Regions from separate parts of the Homo sapiens genome. Here region 2 is reported to be linked to region 1. Evidence: microRNA targets listed by miRTarBase, many of them from high-throughput screens and not tested one by one. Region 1 holds a microRNA gene; the other region holds the end of a gene's coding sequence.
Evidence for each region. The annotated mature microRNA hsa-miR-4509 reads ACUAAAGGAUAUAGAAGGUUUU and lies in region 1 at 3,589-3,610, shown strand. An mRNA with a match to its seed (bases 2 to 7 or 8) in the 3' UTR can be bound and repressed. Matches are read on the target gene's strand: a 7mer-m8 pairs with bases 2 to 8, a 7mer-A1 pairs with bases 2 to 7 and ends in A, and an 8mer does both.

Region 1 (5,390 bases):
CTCCTATTGCAAGGACCTAGAACATAGTAGGAGCTCATCAAACTCTGAGGTTTCAAAATAAGTGAATAGAGGTTGTAGCAGGAAGAAGTCTAAGATAGCCCCTATGACCTTCATTTCCTCATGTTACCCTGTTGATACCTCACACGGCAAAGGAGTCTTGCACATGTCACTAAGGCTAATAATCCGTCAGCCTTAAGACGGGGGGAGTATCTGGGTAAACCTAACCTAATCACACCAAAACTTCACAATCAGGGAGTTTTCTACAACTGAGAGTAGAATGGGAAGTCAGAGAGTTTCAGAGTCCAAGAAGCATTTATAGCACCCTTATTGACTTTGAAGATGCTTTGCTTCTTCTTTTGAGTTCAGTTTGAGATTATCTTTCTAATAATTGATTAGATTTTATTCTTGTAAAACAAGAGATAATTTAAAGGAATCTATTTTTAAATACTCTGAGGAGGGTGATACTAGGGGTGCTGGTTGTCCTGTTTTAACTTTGTCTTAATTTCTAATGTAATTAAATTTTGAGTAGGTAATGTGACCTGTGTGGTTTTTATTTTAAAAAATATGTTGAGGTTTTATATAATCTATTTTTAAAATATTCAATGGAAACTTGAAAACATACTGTTTCACATATTCTCGTATATATATATTAAAAATCTTTTTTTATTTATTTTTTATTTTTATTTTTTTTTGAGACGGAGTCTCGCTCTGTCGCCCAGGCTGGAGTGCAGTGGCGCCATCTGGGCTCACTGCAAGCTCCGCCTCCTGGGTTCACGCCATTCTCCTGCCTCAGCCTCCCGAGTAGCTGGGACTGCAGGCACCCACCACCACGCCCAGCTACTTTTTTGTATTTTTAGTGGAGACAGAGTTTCACCGTGTTAGCCAGGATGGTCTCGATTTCCTGACCTCGTGATCCGCCCGCCTCAGCCTCCCAAAGTGCTGGGATTACAGGCGTGAGCCACTTAGCCCGGCCTAATTATTTGTTTTTTAAAAGACGGTACATAGGAAGAAGTGAATCAGGAAAAGTGGATAGTGATTGGTGGCAGTAGAAGTGAGTCAGTGTTACAGTTACTATTGCTGCTTAAGAAACTAACCCAAATGGCCTGGGCGCCGTGGCTCACGCCTGTAATCCCAGCAGTTTGGGAGGCTGAGACGGGCGGATCATGAGTTCAGGAGATCGAGACCATCCTGCCTAATACGGTGAAACTCTGTCTCTACTAAAAATACAAAAGTTAGCCTGGCCTGGTGGTGGTGGGCGCCTTAAGTCCCAGCTACTCGGGAGGCTGAGGCAGGAGAATGGCGTGAACCCGGGAGGCGGAGCTTGCTGTGAGCCGAGATCGCGCCACTGCAGTCCAGCCTGGGCGACAGAGGGAGACTCCGTCTCAAAAAAAAAAAAATTTAAAAAAAGAAAAAAGAAACTACCCTAAATTTAATAAGGTAAAACAACGACCACTTCATTATATCTCATGGATCCTATAGGTGAGAAATTCCAGCAGGATTCATCTGAGTGATTCTTCCTCTCTCACATCATTAACTAGGGTGACTCAGTGCTAGTCGGCTGGCAAACAAGTCAGTCTGGAAGGTGCAAGGTGCTTTTTTTCTGTCTTATAAATTGATGGAGTTGTCTGGAAGGCAAGGCTCAGATGGGAAGGACTCTTAGTTATAGTGCCTGCACAGAGTAAACTTTTTTTTTTTTTTTTGAGACGGAGTCTCACTGTCCCCCAGGCTGGAGTGGTGTGACCCGATCTCGGCTAACTGCAAACTCCGCCTCCCGGGTTCACGCCATTCTCCTGCCTCAGCCTCCCGAGTAGCTGGGACTACGGGCGCCCACCACCAGGCCCGGCTAATTTTTTGTATTTTTAGTAGAGACTGGGTTTCACCGTGTTAGCCAGGATGGTCTCGATCTCCTGACCTCGTGATCCACCCGCCTTGGCCTCCCAAAGTGCTGGGATTACAGGCCTGAGCCACCGCGCCCGGCCTGCACAGGGTAAACTTCTTATATGGCTGCTGGCTTTCCGCAGATCAAACACTCCAAGGGAACCAGGTGGAAAATGCCTGGTCTCTTTTTATCTCACTTTAAAGGTCAGGTAGAATTATTTGTCATACTCTATTGATTGTAGCAGTCACAAGCACGTCCAGATTTAGGGAAGGGAGACATAGACCTATTTTTTGATGAGAAGAATATCAACCTGTTTTTGGACTATGTTTAAAACTGCCACACATGACAATTACACACCAGGTAGAAGGCATTTGGGGACAGACTTGAAGGAAATGAGGAGGAATCGTGCTCTGCTGAAAGAAGAGCATTCCAAAGAGAGACCACAGCTTGGGCAAAAGCCCTGAGTTGGAATCATGTGGACTTATTCTTAGAACAGCATCGAGGAAGCCATTATAGCTGGAGTAGAATGAGAAGGGGGAAGAGTATTAGTAGATGGTGGCAGAGAAATAAACATGAGAAGACGGATGATGGAACGAGCACCTTGTAAGTCATTTTAAGGACTTTGGCTGTTCCTCAAACTGACATGGGACCATTGAAAGATTTTTTTATTTTTTATTTTTTAAATTTAACTTTTAAGTTCAGTGGTACACGTGCAGGTTTGTTATGTAGGTAAACTTGTGTCATGGGGGTTTGTTGTACGGATTATTCTGTTACCCACATGGTAAACCTGCTACCCACTAGTTGTTTTTCCTGATCCTCTCCCTCCTCCCAGCTTTCACCCTCCTTTTCAAAATAAGACATACATGCAGCCAACAAACATAGAAAAAAAGCTCAGCATCACTGGTCATTAAAGAAATGCACATCAGAAGTACAATGAGATACTATCTCACACCATTCAGAATGGTTATTATTAAAAAGCCAAAAAATAACATGTTGGCAATATTGTGGAGAAAAGGCAACATTTCTACACTGTTGGTGGGAGTGTAAATTAGTTCAGCCATTGTGGAAGACAGTGTGGTGATTCCTCAAACACCTAAAAGAACTACCATTCGACCCGGCAATCCTATTACTGGGTATACACCCAAAGGAATATAAATTGTTCTGTCATAAAGACACATGCATGCATATGTTTATTGCAGCGCTATTCACAGTAGCAAAGGCATGGAATCAACATAAATGCCCATCAATGGTAGACTGGATAAAGAAAATGTGGTATATATACACCATGGCATATTATGCCACCATAAAAGATGAGATCACGCCCTTTGTAGGAACATGGATGGAGCTGGAAGCCATTATCCTTAGCCAACTAATGCAGGAACAGAAAACCAAATGTTCCCACTTAGAAGCGAGAGTCAAAGGGGAGAATACATGAACACGTAGAGGGGAACAACATTGAAAGATATAAGCAAAGAAGTGATATCATCTGAATTGCATTTCTGAGATTTCTCTGGCACTTGTGTAAAAAATAGCTGAAAGGAATCAACGGCAGAAGCTGGGAGACCAGTTAGGGAGCTTTTGCAATAACCATAAGAGGAAATATGTGTGGCTTAGACTAGGAATCGTCAGGTTGGGAGTGCTCATATTCAAATGTGGTCAGAATCCGGACATTTTGAGTGAGCCTACAGAAAGCTTTAATACTATCTCAAACTAAAGGATATAGAAGGTTTTCCCTTTCTCTTGCCCTGAAACCTTCTGTATCCTTTATTTTGAGATAGTATTAGAATTCTTACTATCTTACTGACAATTCTCACTATCTTGTTTTATAACTTGGAACATGATTATAATTATAGTATTGTTAAATATTTTATTTTTATTTTATAATTATACTTTAAAAATATTATTTTGGTAAATAATCATAAAATATGAAAAATAAATCTTTCCATTAACTGAATCAATTGTCCCCTTGCAGGATTTTGGCTTCACAACTTCCTAATCCTTGAAATATTAATTTTGATTATTTTTCTAATATGTACCCATATGTCTTTGAGTAAATTTTTATTGGAAGGACAAATCAGTGCTGGATATACAGATGCCATTGCTTCGTACTCAGGTAAAGACAACCTGATATTTATGATCCTCTTGATCATATTTTTATTCTCTTAAAATCTTTATGTCTTCTAATAATGTTAACAGAGAAGAAAAAAAGTCTTATCTAAGCCTGACTTTTTATTTTTAAGGAAGTTTTTTTCTTTATTTGTAAAATTCAGGAGTTTGGCTAGTTGTTATTTAAATATGGAGAACTCTTCCTTGTTTCTTCCCCCTCCCTGCCTAGAAACTGGTTGGTGCTTTTATTATTCGTACTTCAGTGATAGCTTTGATTATTGTTTCAGATCTCCTTGCCCTTGTGTCTTTCCCTAGTACACAAACTATTCTCGAGGTGGAACCTGTGGTCTCTGGCATACCCATCCGCCTTCTTCTCTGTCATTAGTTCATCTCTTCTTTTGCCCTCCAGAGCTCTGATTCAATTGCTGCTTGAACTTTTCAGTGTGTCAGTTTCTTTCTCCACGGATTTCCCTGTGGATGGAAAATCTGCCCTTGCACTTTAGTTTTCATAGAAGCCTCATCTCAGCTATCTCCCATTTTGTGATATGAGCCTCTTTTGTTATTGTAGCCTTCATCTCCTATTTCCTAAATTCCATGTGTTTCTACATACTGTTCATAGACAAATAGTTTAAAGCAATGTTCTATAGTTTCTTGTGGTTTGAAAGTCATATATTTTTAAATACGTTTTCTCCCCCTGAGAATTCAGCATACAGTTTCATTTTTCTTGTACGCAGGATGATTTTTAGGATTTTTTTTCTGTTATTTTTTTCCATTCTGGTTACCTAGAAGGTAGTGATTATTACCCCAAACCAGGGTTTGATACTGTGTTAGTCCACTTTCATACTGCTATGAAGAAATACCTGAGACTGGGTAATTTATAAAGAAAAAAAGGTTTAATGGACTCAGTTCCACGTGGCTGGGGAAGCCTCACAATCATGGCAGAAGGCAAAGGAGGAGCAAAGACATGTCTTACATGGTGGCAGGCAAGAGAGAGAGCATGTGCAGGGGAACTCCCCTTTATAAAACCATCAGATCTTGTGAGACTTATTCGGTTTCACAAGAACAACACAGGGAGAAACCCATCCCCATGATTCAGTTACCTCCCACTGGGTCCCTTTCATGACATATGGGGATTATGGGAGCTACAATTCAAGATGAGATTTGGGTAGGGACATAGCCAAACCATATCATTCTTCCCCTGGCGCCTCCTGAATCTCATGTTCTCACATTTCAAAATCAATCATGCCTTCCCAACAGTCCCCCAAAGTTTTAACTCGTTTCAACATTAACTGAAAAGTCCACAGTCCAAGGTCTCATCTGAGACAAGTCCCTTCCACCTATGAGCCTGTAAAACTAAAAGCAAGTTAGTTACTTCCTACATACAATGGGGGTACAGGCATTGGGT
Region 2 (5,390 bases), not on the chromosome of region 1:
GAGGGATGTGTCCTCTGCAACTATGCATTTAAATGTATACATAAAAGGGAGTCGCCACAGTCACATTTAACTGGAGTTGTTTTTCCTTCCTATTATAACATCTGGATTATCTATGCTGGCTAATAATGCATATTTCTGCAATCTTAAAGCAATCTTGCAATAACACAAAAACAAACAAAAAAACTAGACTACAATTAACATTCACTTTATTCAGTTTTGTCCTCTCAACTTAGAAGGCAACAAATGACCACATTAAAAAGGGAGCATTTCAGAATATATATACATAAAATTGGTCTGGGTACCCTAAGGTGTTTGCGTTGATAGAAAATTGACACCCCAAACTAAGTGTTCTACTTAGCTTCTACAATAGTTATTCCTAGACCTTAGATTAGTCATTACATTTTTATTTAAGGTACTATGTTACTTTCATGACTACAAAATGAGGCACTCGTACAAAACAGGAATGAAAACATACATATACTGTCTTGTCTTTATGTCGTATTAATGCCAAAGATATTGTCAGGGATTATTTTAAAGAAGCCCTTACTCATGATGGCTATTTTTAAAAATGGCACAGGACAGTAACAGGCTGAAAAGAAAACACCTGGTTGAGGGGACAAATTAAGTAAATACAAGACAGCTTAACCAAGGAAGTCAGCGAATCTCCACAAATGAGGCTTTTAATAATACTTTACTGGTAAGACATTTTAGTTGGGTTTTTTTTTGATGGCTGAATAACATCCTAAAGAAGTATTTTAAATATAATCTTTTAATTTTACAATGTAGAAAACTTCTCACAGTAAGTAGAGAGCTTAGAGTACTCAACCCTGAAAATGAAAATAAGTAGCTAGCTTGGAAAGTTTTAAAAAGCGCCAGTGTTCTTATGGCACTACATTCTCCTGCACGTGTGCGTGTGTTCACGCACATTCGCAAACGCAATACAATGTAGAACTGTCCAGTGTTTGTTTTGTTTTAAAAAGTCATCAATTCAACCTAAATTCAAGAATTACACTTTAATAGTGGCATTTTGCCAATACAGAAATGACGTATCTTGGATCAAATCATTTTAAGGAAAGTTATTCTATATTACTTGAATAAGGGAAAGAAAATACACAAGACAAGAATCCACAATAATAGCAGTTACATTAAATGTTGAAATAAAAATTACTTTTTGTTTACATCTGGAATTGAGATGGCCCATCTTCATTGTTTCTCCAGAGTACTAAGAGGGGGAAAAAAGTCACCTAAAAACATGGGAAGTTTTTTAAGGCTAGCTATACACAAACGTCACATTGGCATTTTTCTTCAGTTTTCATCTCAACTATTAGTACTAAATAGTTTAAAAATCAAACATAATTTACTAATAATGAACAACTGCACACTTCATACTATGACCGTTTGATAACTGGTCATGTAAAACTATCACCAAATGCTGATTTGTCTTCTATATATAAATAGTAAAAATAAAACAAAAAGGTCTTCTTTCCTAGTTAACCTTCTTGAAGGTTGTTTTAACCCAATATAAAATTAAGCAAAATAATAGTATAATTTAAAAAAAAATTTATGTGAAGAAGGGCAGCAATACTAACATTTTCTGAACTATGGGTTTTCAATATTTAAAAGGCTCTTGGTTAAATACTAAAACCCGGATGCTACCCAAGCAAATATTATGCTGGAAAATGCTTTCCCTATGAAAATACTTATCTCATTGAAAACAACACGATAAAGTACAATTGAAAAACTAGGGGAGAATTCTTAAGTAAGACAATATAAATTACCTGCCAGTAAAATGGAGGGCAATTTTTTGGCCATTCATATTGTTTGTTTACAAAACATTGATAAGATTCATTTAAAATTCTGTAGGATTAAGAATTTTTAACCTTTTGAAGTATCTGCCTAGGATCTCTTGCTGTTAAAACAGATATGTTCCAATGACTTTATACCAAGATCCACAAATTCTTTGAAAAATTAAAAAACAAAACAAAACAAAACAAAAAACCCAAAATTAATATAATCAAGTTGGCCAGGCGTGGGGGCTCACACCTATAATCCCAGCACTTTGGGAGCCCAAGGAGGACGGATCACCTGCAGTCAGGAGTTCCGAGACCAGCCTGGCCAACATGGTGAAACCCTATCTCTACTAAAATAACTAAAATAAGCCAGGTGTGGTGGCACGCACCTGTAGTACCAGCTACTTGGGAGGCTGAGGCAGGAGAATCGCTTGAACCTGGGAGGCAGAGGGTGCAGTGAACCAGGATCGTGCCACTGCACTCCAGCCTGGGCAACAGAGTAAGACTCTGTCTCGGGGGCAAAAAAAAAAAAAAAAAAAAAAAAAAAAAAATATATATATATATATATATATATATATATATATATATATATATATATATATATATATAGTTATATAGTTATATAGTTATATGCTCAATTCAATAATAATGTTTTTCTCCCAAAGAGAGCAATTTAGAAATACACTATGACAGGCAGCATTATATTTTAAAATCCTAATTTTTTATAGTAGGACTAAATTTCTGAGTAAAGGTAGGGCTAACAAAGACCTTATTTCAAATGAGAGAAAAGGCTGCTCTAAAGTGCCAAAGAGTATAACACTGAATCCTATGTCAAGCATTATTTCTGATACTGATTTTTTTTTTTTTTTCCAATTTTGCCTAGGTTGGCCTCGAACGCATAGCCTCGCCTCCTTGTGTGCCAGGACAACCGGCCGGAGCCACCGCAGCTCCCGATACCGATGTTTTTAAAAATATGTTTTAAAGTAATTGCTTACCACTTAGGGAAAAAATTGTTGAAGTATAAAACAGCCAGAACACATTGCTCTTTATTTTGGTAGCTTATGTTTGGCTGACTTGCATATGTTAAAAAATTCTCAGATTTTAGTCTATGGATTTTAATACTATATGAAAATTCTTTTATAGTTTCTGAAGACCTATGTTATACGCTTTCTATGAGAACTTCTAAATTATCGTTCAAAAACAAACACTACCCTTACGATATACCTTTAGCATTAAACATTTAGATCATGTACCCAACCATTCTATTTTTCTAAACTTCTAACCTGAAGCTTTGGTTATGAGGGAAAACAAAGTTTGTAAGGGTTCAGTTCTCTGAGATTTTTCAGAATGTTTCCAACGAAATACATTCCTATGTTAAAAGGCCAGCTCAGCCAAGCTTCCTTCTGGACAAATAATGAATTGGTTTTATTTGAAGTTTTATTCTGTAAACAAAAAGCTTTGGAAACTTTGGGATTTCCTGATGAAAAGCTAGGAGAAATGCACACCTAGTCCTCAGCCAACGAGGCACTAACCAGCGAGACCAGATGTTCTAACCAGTCTTCTCTAATGCTGTCAATCTAAGACCACAACCACATCTATACTTCACAAGCATCTCAGAAGTCCTAAATCCAGTAAGATGCAGTACAGTTGGTGATGTCACTCTGAAAGATTTATGACCTTGCAGGACTTTCGGCCACTGCTACAAAAAATAAACAGATAGTTGTGTGTGGAAAAGAGAGGATGTGGGTGTGGGGTGGGGGCGGGCGGGGGGGCTGACTCATGAAAATCTTCATTTGGACTTTTTTTCTCTAAGTATAGACATGCCCCACTGAAACCCAACTCCCAATGCTGATCACACTAGGAATATTAAATTATCAAAATTAAAAATAATTTCCTCACCTAGCACAAGATACTATACAATATTACAAACACAGACACATGAAAAAAATCAGGCAGTAGGAAATGTACAACAGCTTTGGTGTTATACAAAATAACTTCCACAAACAACTAACAGTGAAGCATAAAGTTCATGTTTTCTTACCACAGACACTCCACTGCTGATTTCTACTTGTTTCCTTTAACGTTCTTGGTAAGGTCTGAATAGCCAAGAAAGAAAGAATGTACAGTTCCCTTAGTGAGAGCTGCTAGGACATCATGAACTGCGTTCCACAAGGCGTCACTGAAAAGTCTTGCCTGCGCACTACTGCTCTGTGGCACGTTTCCTGTCGAGATCACAGCAGGTCCAAAATAAAGTGACAACTAGATTTAATAAATTAATATACATTTTGTTTAAAGATGTACAATGCACATTCTGTTTAATCCAAGGTTTTAGGGTATCAAGGAACTTGTATTTACACATATACAAATCTCAGACAGCAGTAATGTCAGAAGATCCAGGGAGAACAGCAGAATCTTACACCGCTGCTCTCTGAATGCTGAGAACACAAGTCAAATACATTTAACTTAAAAACAACGCTGAGAGATCACTGGGAAAAATCTCCAAAGAGAGAAGTCCACAAAAAAGGACATGTAAAGGGGAAGGTCAAGTTGTTGAGACAACTACTTTATTCTTGGGATGACTGTGGAGGTGGTGGAGATGAGCCTTGTTTGCCAGATTTCCGTTCGTAGTTCACGAGTCGTTGACCCACAAGGTACCTAGGTTGCAAAAACAAGGTGGTTACTCTCTTCTATGAATGTACAGAGTAAAACATTCATATGTCTTTTTAAATCTAACTCCTACTTAAAACTCGTCAATGGTTGGGCAAGTCAAAGGGAGTCCCGAGTGAACACCTGTAAAGGCTGACACATCTACCTAGGTATGGGTTTGTAGGAAGCTGCAGAAGCAGCACAGGCTGGAAGGCCTCCAATGCTGTGCAATGGAGGACATGCTTCAGTCAGTGGTTTAGGGGGTCTCAGAAACTCAGACCTGTGGAGGCCAGGAGGGATACAGTAAACTTATGCAGTGGATTTATCTGTTAAGGTTCAGATTTTATAAAACAACTTAGTGGGCAGATCTAAGGAGACAGACTAAAAACATGACCATCAGAAAGCTAGGAAGGGGCTGGGCGTGGTGGCTCACGCCTGTAATCCCAGCACGTAGGGAGGCCGAGGCGAGTGGATCACCTGAGGTCAGGAGTTTCAGACCAGCCTGGCCAACATGGTGAAACCCCATCTCTACTAAAAATACAAAATTAGCTGGGTGTGTGTGGTCCCAGCTACTAGAGAGGCTGAGGCAGAAGAACTGCTGAAACCTGGGAGGTAGAGGTTGCAGTGAACTGAAATTGTGCCACTGCACTCCAGTCTGGGTGACAGAGTGTGACTCCGTCTCAAAAAAAAAAAAAAAAAAAAAGTAGGAAGGGATGAAAGTAAAACTGGAAGTTCTAGTTACAGAGAAGAAAGGAGAAATCAAAGGAGAAATTTCAGTGAAGTCAAAGGGAAGACAGCATTGCAGTGAGTGAGTATGAGTGACAGGAGGTGGGAGAATATGGTTCAACAACAGAATGGCAAGTGTTCCTAACTTATGTATGTGATGAAAGGAGAAGGCAATGGCAAAGGCCACAGGGCTGCAGAAACAAGGCAGATGTTACTGTAGTTGGAGTG

Region 2: miRTarBase lists MARCHF6 as a target of hsa-miR-4509. Seed matches in the 3' UTR shown: 7mer-A1 at 2,586-2,592.

The regions. Positions count from the first base shown.
Region 1 is chr15:28,422,920-28,428,309 of GRCh38, forward strand. It overlaps MIR4509-2 (microRNA 4509-2), which reads left to right and starts at 3,572; the gene lies at 3,572-3,665.
Region 2 is chr5:10,432,649-10,438,038 of GRCh38, reverse strand. It overlaps MARCHF6 (membrane associated ring-CH-type finger 6), which reads right to left. Exons shown (of 26, transcript NM_005885.4): 26 at 1-4,445. The coding sequence ends at 4,355. Among named protein-coding and RNA genes, the nearest start is that of ROPN1L-AS1, 6.5 kb to the left of the region's middle.